Regions from separate parts of the Homo sapiens genome. Here region 1 is linked to region 2. Evidence: fine-mapped expression QTL. A gene starts in region 2. The other region holds a variant in brackets. All regions are shown on one strand. Distances are from middle to middle. Region 1 overlaps PRPF19 (pre-mRNA processing factor 19). Region 2 holds the start of SLC15A3 (solute carrier family 15 member 3).

Region 1 (5,372 bases), 61 kb before region 2:
AGATGAATGATAGCAACGGATACCTGGTTCTGCTCTTAAGATTCTAAGTGGGAAAGACAAATGCGCAAACACCTTCAAGGTAACACAGAGCTATGCTAAAGGCATGAACCATGGGCTCCAAGAAAGCTCACTCACCTGGCAGGGCAGCAATGGGCTCCAGAGGCTTCCTGAAGGACTTGGTCTATCTCTGGGGAGGGCAGACTCCAGGGAGAGGGAGCAGGAGAGTGGTAATAGTTAATAGTAGCAGCATTTATGATGTGCAATTCCTATTCTAAGCACTTGTCACATTCACTTAATCCTTACTATATCTCTAGTAAGTACACTATCCCCATCTTTTGGATGAAGAAACTCAAACAGAAAAAAGTTAAATAATCTGTCCAAGGTCTTGCAGCAACTAAGTGCCAGAACTGGGATTCAAAGCCAGAGAGTCCAGTGCCAGGACTATGCTCCCACCTTCTGCTCCGTTCTGCAAAGGAAGAGCGGTATGAAGTCCTATGCAGGGACCAAGAATCTGCTGAGTTGCTGGACAGCAAAGAGCAAGGTTGTTTTCTTTTTTCTGAGACAGAGTCTCGCTCTGTCACTAGGCTGGAGTGCAGTGGCACAATCTCAGCTCACCGCAACCTCTGCCTCCCGGGTTCAAGCGATTCTCCTGCCTCAGCCTCCCAAGCAGCTGGGACTACAGGCATGCACCATCACACCCAGCTAATTTTTTGTATTTTTAGTAGAGATGGGGTTTCACCATGTTGGCCAGGATGGTCTCCATCTCCTGACCTCAGGCAATCCACCCACCTCGGCCTCCCAAAGTGCTGGGATTACAGGCATGAGCCACCACACCCGGCCAAGGGCAAAGTTGTTTTAAGAATTAAATGAGTGGCTGGGCGTGGTGGCTCACGCCTATAATCTCAGGACTTTCGGAGGCTGAGGCTGGCGGATGACCTGAGGTCGGGAGTTCGACCTCAACCCTCTCCCACTCGAGTGACCCATTCTACCATCTGCAAACCATAGCTGTTGTTAGCCCACCTTTTAACTAGGCAGTTGTCCTAACTTTTTTTTAAAGTATGTCCTGCCTTGGGAGAACTGTATGATTGGTCTTTTTTTTTTTTCTTCCCCAAGACGGAGTCTTGCTCTGTCCCCCAGGCTGGAGTGCAGTGGCACAATCCCAGCTCACTGCAACCTCCACCTCCTGGGTTCAAGCAATTCTCCTGTCTCAGCCTCCCGAGTAGCTGGGATTACAGGAACCTGCCACCATGCTCAGCTAATTTTTGTATTCTTAGTAGAGATGGGGTTTCACCTTCTTGGCCAGGCCGGTCTCGAACTCTTGATCTCGTGATCCGCCCGCCTTGGCCTCTGGAAGTGCTGAGATTACAGGCGTGAGCCACCGCACCTGGCCCAGGTCTTTTCTTAATAATAAACACTGGTGTAAGTTAAATGGTTTATATTCAACTTGTATAAGTTAAGTGGTTTCTTTACTGTGGGGTTTTTCAGCTTTCCCTAGCTAGTAGGCATCCTGACCCTCCCAGGCAGATACGGCATGCCGAGCTTCCCTGACAACAGAACACTGCCCCAGCAAAACATGCCTGGAGGTCTCCTGTTATGTCCACAATATGGCCTACCATACTTTGCCCCCAAAGCTCCCCTCCTGGTAACACCCCATTTCTCAGCTCCCCTTCTCAGCACTATTTTTTGTCTATAATCACTGACTCCCACACTTCCTCACCTCATATCCTCTTACCCCACTCCAGGGAGGCAGCCAGCCCCGACCTTCCACTGGGATGGCCCTTGTCAGGGGACTGTCAATCACCCCAGACTGTACACCATGGTTCCCCCGACTTTGCCACCATGACCTCCTTCCTGTTCCTCCATATATCTCGCTCAGTCCAGCCCTAGAACCTGCTCTCTGCCTGCCAACACTCCTCCCCTCTCAGGTCCCTCTCATTCCAGCTTCAGCTTCATCACCACCACTTCAGAGGCCTTTCCTGACCTGCAATCTAAAGCAGTCACGTGACCCTACAGGAATTCCCTATAAGGCACATTCATTATCAGATCTTTGTCCCGAAACCAGTCCTACCACAGCTTTTCAATCGCCAGAGTCAATAAAAAAATCTCCTTTTTGACTTATGCCAGCTGAGGACAGGCTAGAAAGCCTACAACTAAAGAACCCTGATGGAGATGCTCAGACCTCCCCACCAGCAAGATCCAGCTAATCTTCCCTGCAGGTCTCCCTCCCTTCCAGGCTTGTGTAGGAAACCAAGTCTACAAGGCAAGTGGCAGGACTAGTGACTTGAGGCCTTTAGACACAAGGTCAAGAACCGCAGGGACATGGCAAATTTCATCTGCAGATTTGTTTTTATTTCTGCTGTGCAAT[T/TA]AAAAAAAAAAAAAAAGGGTAAGAGCTGTGAAAGGAAAGGAAGATGGGCTTCCCGGAAGCCAGTGTCCCAGTGTGTGCTCCCTCCCCTTGACCTTCCCAGTCCCAGGTGCTCCTGGTGCAGACAGACACGGGGAGGTGGTTATGGTTATTGTTTTCTTTTTTTAATGAAACTAGATCACTGCTTACAAAACCCTGCACAAGCCCTCCTGCCCATCCCCTTCACAGTTCCCTTGGCTCAGCCTCTCCTGTCTCACAGGAACTGCAACAAAATGGGTGTGGAACAGCCACCACCACGTCCATTGAACGACAGGAAGGGAGAGGCCCTGGGCTCCGACCCTGGGCCTTAAGAGGGTGACAGTTCTTCCTTCCACATCCGTTCCCATGGGGCCTGGAGTTGCATGGATGAGGGTGGTCCATGCCACCATGGTTCTCAGGCCACCACTCAGACCAGAGTGAAATGATGTGAATGTCCCACCCCACAGAGCCCCCTCCCCCCATAGATTCCCCCCACCCCCCCCCCCAAACCCTAATTCTACCCCTCTACTGAGATGAGGCCCAGCTTCCATCAGAAGGGCCAGGGCCTACAGGCTGTAGAACTTGAGGCTTCTGTCCATGCCTGTTGAAGCGATGAACTTGGCGTGATGCCCGAAGGCCACCCCTGTGGTCAGGCCGCTATGCTCTGAGGAGAAAGATAAGAGGCAACTGTGAGAAGGCTTTTCCTCCTTTAGTCTGAACACTGATCCCTAATAACAGATTCCCAAACAACCAGGCCTTCTCTAATTAGTATTTATCACACCGCAGGCTCCTGTTTGTTTTCCCTAGGCTGACCTGCACACTACCCCCAGTGCCTCCCTCAGTGCCTGGCATTTTTCACTGGTGGGATGAATGAATAAAGCAATGCCAGCCCCCCCTTCTCACCTGAGCTTTCTGGGCAACTGCAGTTCGGCTAGGTTTAGTTGAAAAACCTCAGAGCTCAGCTTGTTTATGCCTAGTGCTCACTACTTGCTCGTAAGTGGAACAGTCCATCAGCATTTTCTAGCTCATAGTGTTCCAACCCCAGGGCACTCAGGCCCCTAACACAGAGCAGGACCAGATAAGAGGCAGATGAGGCTGGGCAACATTCCTCATGGGACTCCAGAAATTCATGAACATCTGGCCAAATTCCTTCTAGATTTAGGATCACACCTGGAGTCAACCAACTCCCCATTAAAAAGCTCACGCTGTATTTTCAGCTACCTAACTCGGTTCTAAATCAAAACACCAGGTACAGTACAGGGTGAAAACCGGTGAGCCATATTGTTAGGATGGACACCTTTGTTATACAAACACACTGAGCAGGGCTCAGGAGAATACGGGGCAAGAAGAAATATCTTGTATCCTGCTCACAACCTGCTAATGAGGACGAGAATTTCATCAACACACACAGCAGTAGCTCCCATTCATGTAGCATCTTAAGTGAGCATCAGGCACCCTGTTACCAGCATATTAGCATGCCATCTCCACAACACCAGCTGTCACACCCTGCAAAGCTGTGCCAATATTCCCATTTTCTAGATGAAGGAGTTCAAGATCTGAAAGGGAAAGTCACGTACCCAGGGCCACATAACTGTTAGGTTAGAAACCCTGTTACCCATTCTCTCAGCATCTCATGCTTTTCTTCTCTAGCACTTATAATTGCAATTAAATGTGTACATGTGAAATTAATCTACATCTGCCTTACTAACCTGACTATAAATTACATCAGTGCCCAAATCGGGTCTGTTTTATTCACTGCTCTATCCCACCACAGACTAAGACCCAATGCTGAGTGAGAACAACTGCAAATCCTGACTACGTGCCAGACACCGTTCTGACCTATGTATTCACAGACGGTCCCCGATTTACCATGGTTCAACTTGCAATATTTTCAGCTTATGATGCACTTATCAGGATGTGGCTCCATCGTATATCAAGGAGCACCTGTATGTATTTTCATCTAAACCTCAACAACCCCACTGAGTCTATAGTTACCATTCCCACTTTTCTGAGAGGTTAAGTAATATTGGATCTCAGAAAACAATACCCCAAAGTATGGTGGTTTGGCACGCTGAGGGCTTTGAACCAAGGTCTCTCTGACCATGTCCTGCCCTCCTGTCTCTTGCCCCTCTTTCTCTAAGGGCAGGTCATCTGAAAGGAACATCATGAATCCCCTTCCTGGGAATCTCAACCAGGGAAAATGAACTGGTCTCACAAGAGAGAAGACTAGATGCCAGTCTTTGTCACAGACTGTCATGCATTATTTATCTAAGGTCTGCTCTGAGACAACTTTTATTACCTGAGAGACTCTGTAGTGCACTTCCTCCCCATCCCCCCACATAACTTGTGTCACCACCACCCCCTAGAAGCCTTAGGCCCCTACTCCCTTCTGCAGTTCAGGATGCCATAGAGTCATGTGTCACATAATGACATGTCAGCGACGGACCACACAAACACTGGTCCCATAAGATTACAGTGGAGCTGAAAAATTCCTATCACCAAGTGATGTCATAACCATCATCATGTCACAATGCAATGCATTATTCACGTTTGTGGGGATACAGGTATAAACAAATCTACTACACTGCCAGTTGTATAAAAGTATAATATAGCTAGGCGCGGTGGCTCACGCCTGTAATCCCAGCACTTTGGGAGGCCGAGGTGGGCAGATCACGAGGTCAGGAGTTTGAGATCAGCCTGGCCAACATAGTGAAACCTCATCTCTACTACAAATACAAGTACAAAAAAAAAAAAATTAGCCAGATGTGGTGGCACACGCCTGAAGTCCCAGCTACTCGGGAGGCTGAGGCAGGAGAATCACTTGAACCCAGGAGGCGGAGGTTGCAGTGAGCCAAGACCATGCCATTGCACTCCAGCCTGGGTGACAGAGCAAGACTCAATCTCAAAAAAAAAAAAAGTATAACATAATTAGGTACAGTACGTTACTGGTTTATGTACAGACATATCTCAGGGACATCGCTGGTTCAGCTCC
Region 2 (5,372 bases):
TGAGATCGCACCTCTGCACTCCAGCGTAGGCAACAGAGCGAGACTCCGTCAAAAGAAAGGAAGAAAGAAAGGAAAGAAGGAAAGAAAGAGAAAGAAAGAGAGAGAGAGAAAGAGAAAGAAAGGAAGAAAGAAAGAAAGAAGGAAAGAAAGAAAGAAAGAAAGAAAGAGAAAGAAAGAGAGAGAGAGAAAGAGAAAGAAAGGAAGAAAGAAAGAAAGAAGGAAAGAAAGAAAGAAAGAAAGAAAGAAAGAAAGAAAGAAAGAAAGAAAGAAAGAAAGAAAGAAAGAAAAGAGATGGCCAGGGCTGGCCTGGGGGCATGAAGTCATCATCAAAGGATCCTAAACAAGCTGGACAAGTGACTCCTTGTCAAGGACACTGGAAACTGCTAGGTGCTGAATTGTGGGTGCCAATTGGATGAAACGATCCTTTTGAAAAATGTCCCCTTTATGAGTATAATATGTGCAATCAAAGAACATTTGATAAACTGAGACAAGAAGAAAGTGCAATTAGTCCAGTGGCCTGATCATACCACTGTGACAATCTTTTTCCAGTTTCCTTTCGTTGACACCTCGTCTTTCCACATGGCTGCAGTCCTATCTGTATGCAGTCCTGCCTCCTGCTTTTGCTCATTTACACCATATGTGGTTATTTTAATAATATTACATTTTAGTCTAAATTATTGTCTAATATCCCACTGGGAACAGCTATCAAAATATAGCCGTGTTGTTGGGCATTTACTCATTCATTTAGCAAATACTTATTAAATTTCTTCTACGTGCCATGCTCTGTTCAAGGGGGAACGGAGAAAGGCTCAGAGGTTGAGCTAAGGGAGAAGACCAGGCAGCCCATTCAGGATATAAATGAGTTCTTGCCCATGTGGCTCCAGCTAGTGAAAGGCAGAGCTGGGATCTGAGCAAGTCGGCCTGACAGCCTCTAGCACTGCTGGTAGGAAGAAGCTGGCTTGCTCCTGCCCTGCCCGCACATCCCCATAACACACAGAGAGGAGGTTCATGGTGGGACCTGGAGTCCAGCTGCCTTTACTCGGCTCCTCGACCCTCCATGTCACCTTGGGCAAGTTGATTAATGCCATGAAACCTCTCAGTGTCTTTCTCTGTAAAATGGGCATAATAATTCCTACTTCCTGGGTGGTGAAGAGTATTAAATCAGTTAAACAGTGAAAGTGCTTAGCATAGGGCCTGCAAGTAGCTCAAAAAAGACCAACCTGCCTGGCGTGGTGGCTCATGCCTGTAATCCCAGCACTTTGGGAGGCCTAGGCAGGTGGATCACCTGAGGTCAGGAGTTCAAGACCAACATGGTGAAACCCCACCTCTACTTAAAAAAAAAAAAAAATTACAAAAATTAGTTGGGCGTGGTGGCAGGCCCCTGTAATCCCAGCTACTCTGGAGGCTAAGGAGGGATAATCGCTTGAACCCGGGAGGCTGAGGTTGCAGTGCGCTGAGATCGCGCCATTGCACTGCAGCCTGGGCGACAGAGTGAAACTCCGTCTCAAAAAATAAAACAAACAAAAAAACAACCATGGTTATTCCCACTGCGGTTGCCATCGGTTTTGCAAGGGCTAGCCCCCCTCTTCTTTCAAATCAGGAAACTAGTGCAGGCAGGGGACCTGGTTTGTCCCAGGTCACGCTGGGGGCCAGCCCTCCTTCCCTCCACACCCGCCGGAGTATGCCGGGGCAGGCCTCCTGCCACTCACCTGGTCGGCACCGAAGGAGGTGAGGTTGCTCCGGACGGAGCTGGCGGCCAGGCCGAGTAGCAGCAGGCCCGCGTAGAGGACGGGCGCGCAGTAGGGGCTGGGCGAGGAGCGCGGGCAGCCGGCCGAGGGGCAGGCAGGTCCCAGCGGCGACGCGGGCATCTCTCCGCAGAAGGAGCTGCGGCCGTCGGGGAAGGCGGTGGCGGGCAGCAGGCCCGAGGCGGCCAGGTAGAGCAGCAGGCTGAGCGCGACCGCGCGGTAGCGGCCCAGGTACACGTCGGCCAGCCAGCCGCCCACGGGCGCCAGCAGGTAGGAGGCGCCCAGGAATACCAGCGCGGCGCGCGTCGCCTGCTCGCCGGTCCAGTTGAAGTTGGTGCTGTTGAGGTACAGCACGAGGTTGGCGGTGACGCCGAAGAAGGCGGCGCGCTCCAGCATCTCCACCAGCAGCACGGCCGCGCCCGCCGCCCGCCGCCACCGTCGAGGGCCCCGCGCACCGCGAGGCAGCAGCGGCTGGCGCTCCCCGGGCACGCGGGGCTGCTCCCGGGCGCGCGGCGCGGGCATCCTGGCTCCGGGCTGGGCCCCCCGCGGCTCTTCTCTCCTCTCCTCTCCCCGCCTCAGAGCCCTGCACTCCTGCCCCCGGGCCTCGGCCCTCTCCCCCACCCAACTGGCTGGCCCTCCTTTCTCACCGCTTTGGCCCACCCTTCCCTCCTGTCCCCTCTCCCTTTCTTGCCCTACCCTTCCTGTCCCTCCGCTCACTACCCGGACTCTACCACCTCCTCCCTAATTCTCAACTCCCCTCTCCCTTCCCCCACCCCTAAGGCTTCCTCCCCGCGCCTCTCCTGCAGCTGTTTCTCCCTAACTCTCCCCTCTCCTCCCTCCACCTTGACCCTTCCTCGCACTCTTGTTCACACTGCGACCCTCCCTGCTTCACTTCGCTGCCCCTCCGCCTCCCTTTCCCCTCCCCGTTTGTCGCCCCTTCCTGTTGTCCCCTCTCCTTATGACTCCTGGCCTGCCCTGGGCGTGGGGTGGGGGCTCCCTCTGCCCCAGTCACCCTGCTGCCCCTTGCCGTCTTCTCCACCTCCTCCCTGTCCCCCTCACCCCCACTGCCTACACTCCCCTCTCAGTCCCCTGCAGCCCTCCCCCCAGGCTCAGCCTCTGTCCCTCTCTCGGCTTCTTGAGAAACTCTGGGCTCCCCTCGCTTCCCCTTTCACAGGCCCTATCCGCAGTCCCCTGCCTGCATCACATGGCGCTACTGGGTGTTTAGGAGAAGTGAAAGCCTGGGTCACAGGGCTCCTGCCCGGTCAGCTTTCTAAAAACCTCCCTCCTTCTCTACCTCTGCCTCCTACCCCAAACCCCCGCTGCTGGCCTCCTTAGAGCCAAAAAATTCCAGGAGGAATTTTTTCTTTCAGTTTCATTTCTCGCCAGGATTCCACTTTTGCTTTACCCTCTTCCAATCAAACTCCACGCCTCCACCCGAGGCGCCACGGGTAGAAAGAAGTGGAAAGGCTACCTGCATCATTTGGTCACACTCAGCCATTTCACAGATGCAGAGACAGACCCAGTGGGGCTAGGGCAGGAAGGTGGAGAAAGATTGGTTCCTGGTAACTGAACTAGGGGTGAAGCCCTGCCCCGGGCTCCTGAGTGGCAGGGAAATTCACAGCGCAATTCGGATTGCACAGAGGCTGCTGTGAGGAAGGAAGTGGGGCACTTTCAACAAGCCTGCGGGCCATAGAGGACCACAAGTGAGTCGGGATTGAGAGGGACACCGACCTCAGACTAAATCAGAGTCAGCCTCAGAACTCCTAAGCACCAGCCCCACCCTGACCTAGGAGCCCGGGGGATCTGGCCTCTGCTCTCCTCTGATCTCATCTCAGCCCCATGTTCACTCAAGTCCAGCCAGCCGGCCTCCCAGGTTCCCCTTCCATGCTAAGCTCCTCCCTGCCTCAGGGCCTTTGTCTTTGCTGACCCCTCTGCCATAACTGCTCTCCCTCCATATCCTTGCATGGCTGGCTGCTTCTCTTTATTGAGGTTTCAGCATATATGTCTCCTTTGTAGGGACCTTCCCTGATTTTCCCATCTAAGTAGTTTCCTACTGGATTCTCAGCATCCCCCATCACATTGTCTTGTTTTAATGTCTTCAGAGCACATATTACTTGTTCAGTTAGCACCAGTAGAATAGGCCCTCCATCAGATCAGAGACCTTTTCTAACTCTTCACTGTTTTATTCTCAATGGCTTCCCAGTGCTTGGCAAATAGTAGGTGCTCAATAAGTATTGCCTGAATCAATGAATGGAAAGAGTGTCCCAAGGCAAAATTTGTAAGAATAATAATATCAGGAAAGCTAAAGCTAAATAAACTGAGTCTCACAAAAGCTATAGATACCAGCAAAAAAAGCACTATAGATACCAGCAAAAAAGCGAGGGATTTTTTGTTGTTGTTGTTTGTTTGTATGTTTGTTTTGAGACGAAGTCTCACTCTGTCGCCCAGGCTGCCATGCAGTGGCACAATCTCGGCTCACTGCAACCTCCACTTCCTGAGTTCAAGCAATTCTCCTGCCTCAGCCTTCTGAGTAGCTGGGATTACAAGCGCGTGCCATCACGCCTGGCTAATTTTTGTATTTTCAGTAGAGATGGGATTTCACCATGTTGGTCAGGCTAGTCTCAAACTCCTGACCTCATGATCCACCTGCTTCGGCCTCCCAAAGTCCTGGGATTACAGTTGTGGGCCACTGTAAGTTTTTAACATGTTAGAGAAGCCAGGCCAAGAGGATGGTGAGAAAGCAAAGCCCTCCATCCCAGGTCTTCCTGCAGTCACTGCAGTCAGGACCATGTGCTCTCGTGAGGTGGGCAGAGCCTGGAGGAGAGAAGAGGAGACTTCAATGGAGCTGCACCATCCCTCGACTTGGAGGAAGCTTAGGTCATCAGCTGTGACGGTATGGTGACGAAGTTCAGATCACATCAGATCCAGCTCCTTCCTCTCTTGGCAAGATCACTAGGCTGGCAGATGAGCTCAGACTTAGCCCAGAGAGCTGAGTCTTACCCAGAGAGCTGAGAGAGTGCTGGCCTGCCATCGGTGATGTTCAGCGGGTGGTAGATGAAGGGAAAGGCTTCTAAAAGCAGTGTGGCCTGCAGAGAAAAACCCAGGAGAGGAAAGTAGCAAAGAAAAGAGGAGTGCAGCATCTTTTTTTTTTTTTTTTTTTTTTTTTTTGAGACAGAGTCACACTCTGTTGGCCAGCCTGGAGTGCAGTGGCACGATCTCGGCTCACTGCAACCTCTGCCTCCCAGGCTCAAGCAATTCTCCTGCCTCAGCCTCCTGAGTAGCTGGGATTACAGGCGTGTGCCACCACGCCCGGCTAATTTTTGTGTTTTTTAGTGGAGATGGGGTTTCACCATGTCAGCCAGGCTGGTCTCAAATGCCTGACCTCAGGTAATCCATCTGCCTTGGCCTTCAAAAGTGCTGGGATTACAGGTGTGAGCTACCGCACCCAGCCCAGCGTCTTTCTTACTGCCCAGCCTCCATCTCCAAGGTACCAGGGGGCCAGGTGCTGGGCTGGTTCACTGGGGAAAGTCCTGGGGACACATTTAGCTGGGGAGAAGGTAGGGGTGACTTGCCTCTTGCAGATAGGGGAAGTAATGTTCCAAAAGCGGACATGACTGTCACCCAGGG

The links.
Region 1: its variant is fine-mapped to the expression of SLC15A3 in whole blood (INTERVAL, PIP above 0.99).

Annotation. Positions count from the first base shown.
Region 1 is chr11:60,888,220-60,893,591 of GRCh38, forward strand. It overlaps PRPF19 (pre-mRNA processing factor 19), which reads right to left. Exons shown (of 16, transcript NM_014502.5): 16 at 2,328-3,044. The coding sequence ends at 2,947. Among named protein-coding and RNA genes, the nearest start is that of PRPF19, 16 kb to the right of the region's middle. The variant T/TA (reference allele first, on the strand shown) is at 2,366.
Region 2 is chr11:60,949,285-60,954,656 of GRCh38, forward strand. SLC15A3 (solute carrier family 15 member 3) reads right to left here and starts at 2,892. Exons shown (of 8, transcript NM_016582.3): 1 at 1,710-2,892. The coding sequence starts at 2,267. RefSeq lists silencers at 2,175-2,334, 2,655-2,884 and an enhancer at 3,065-3,204.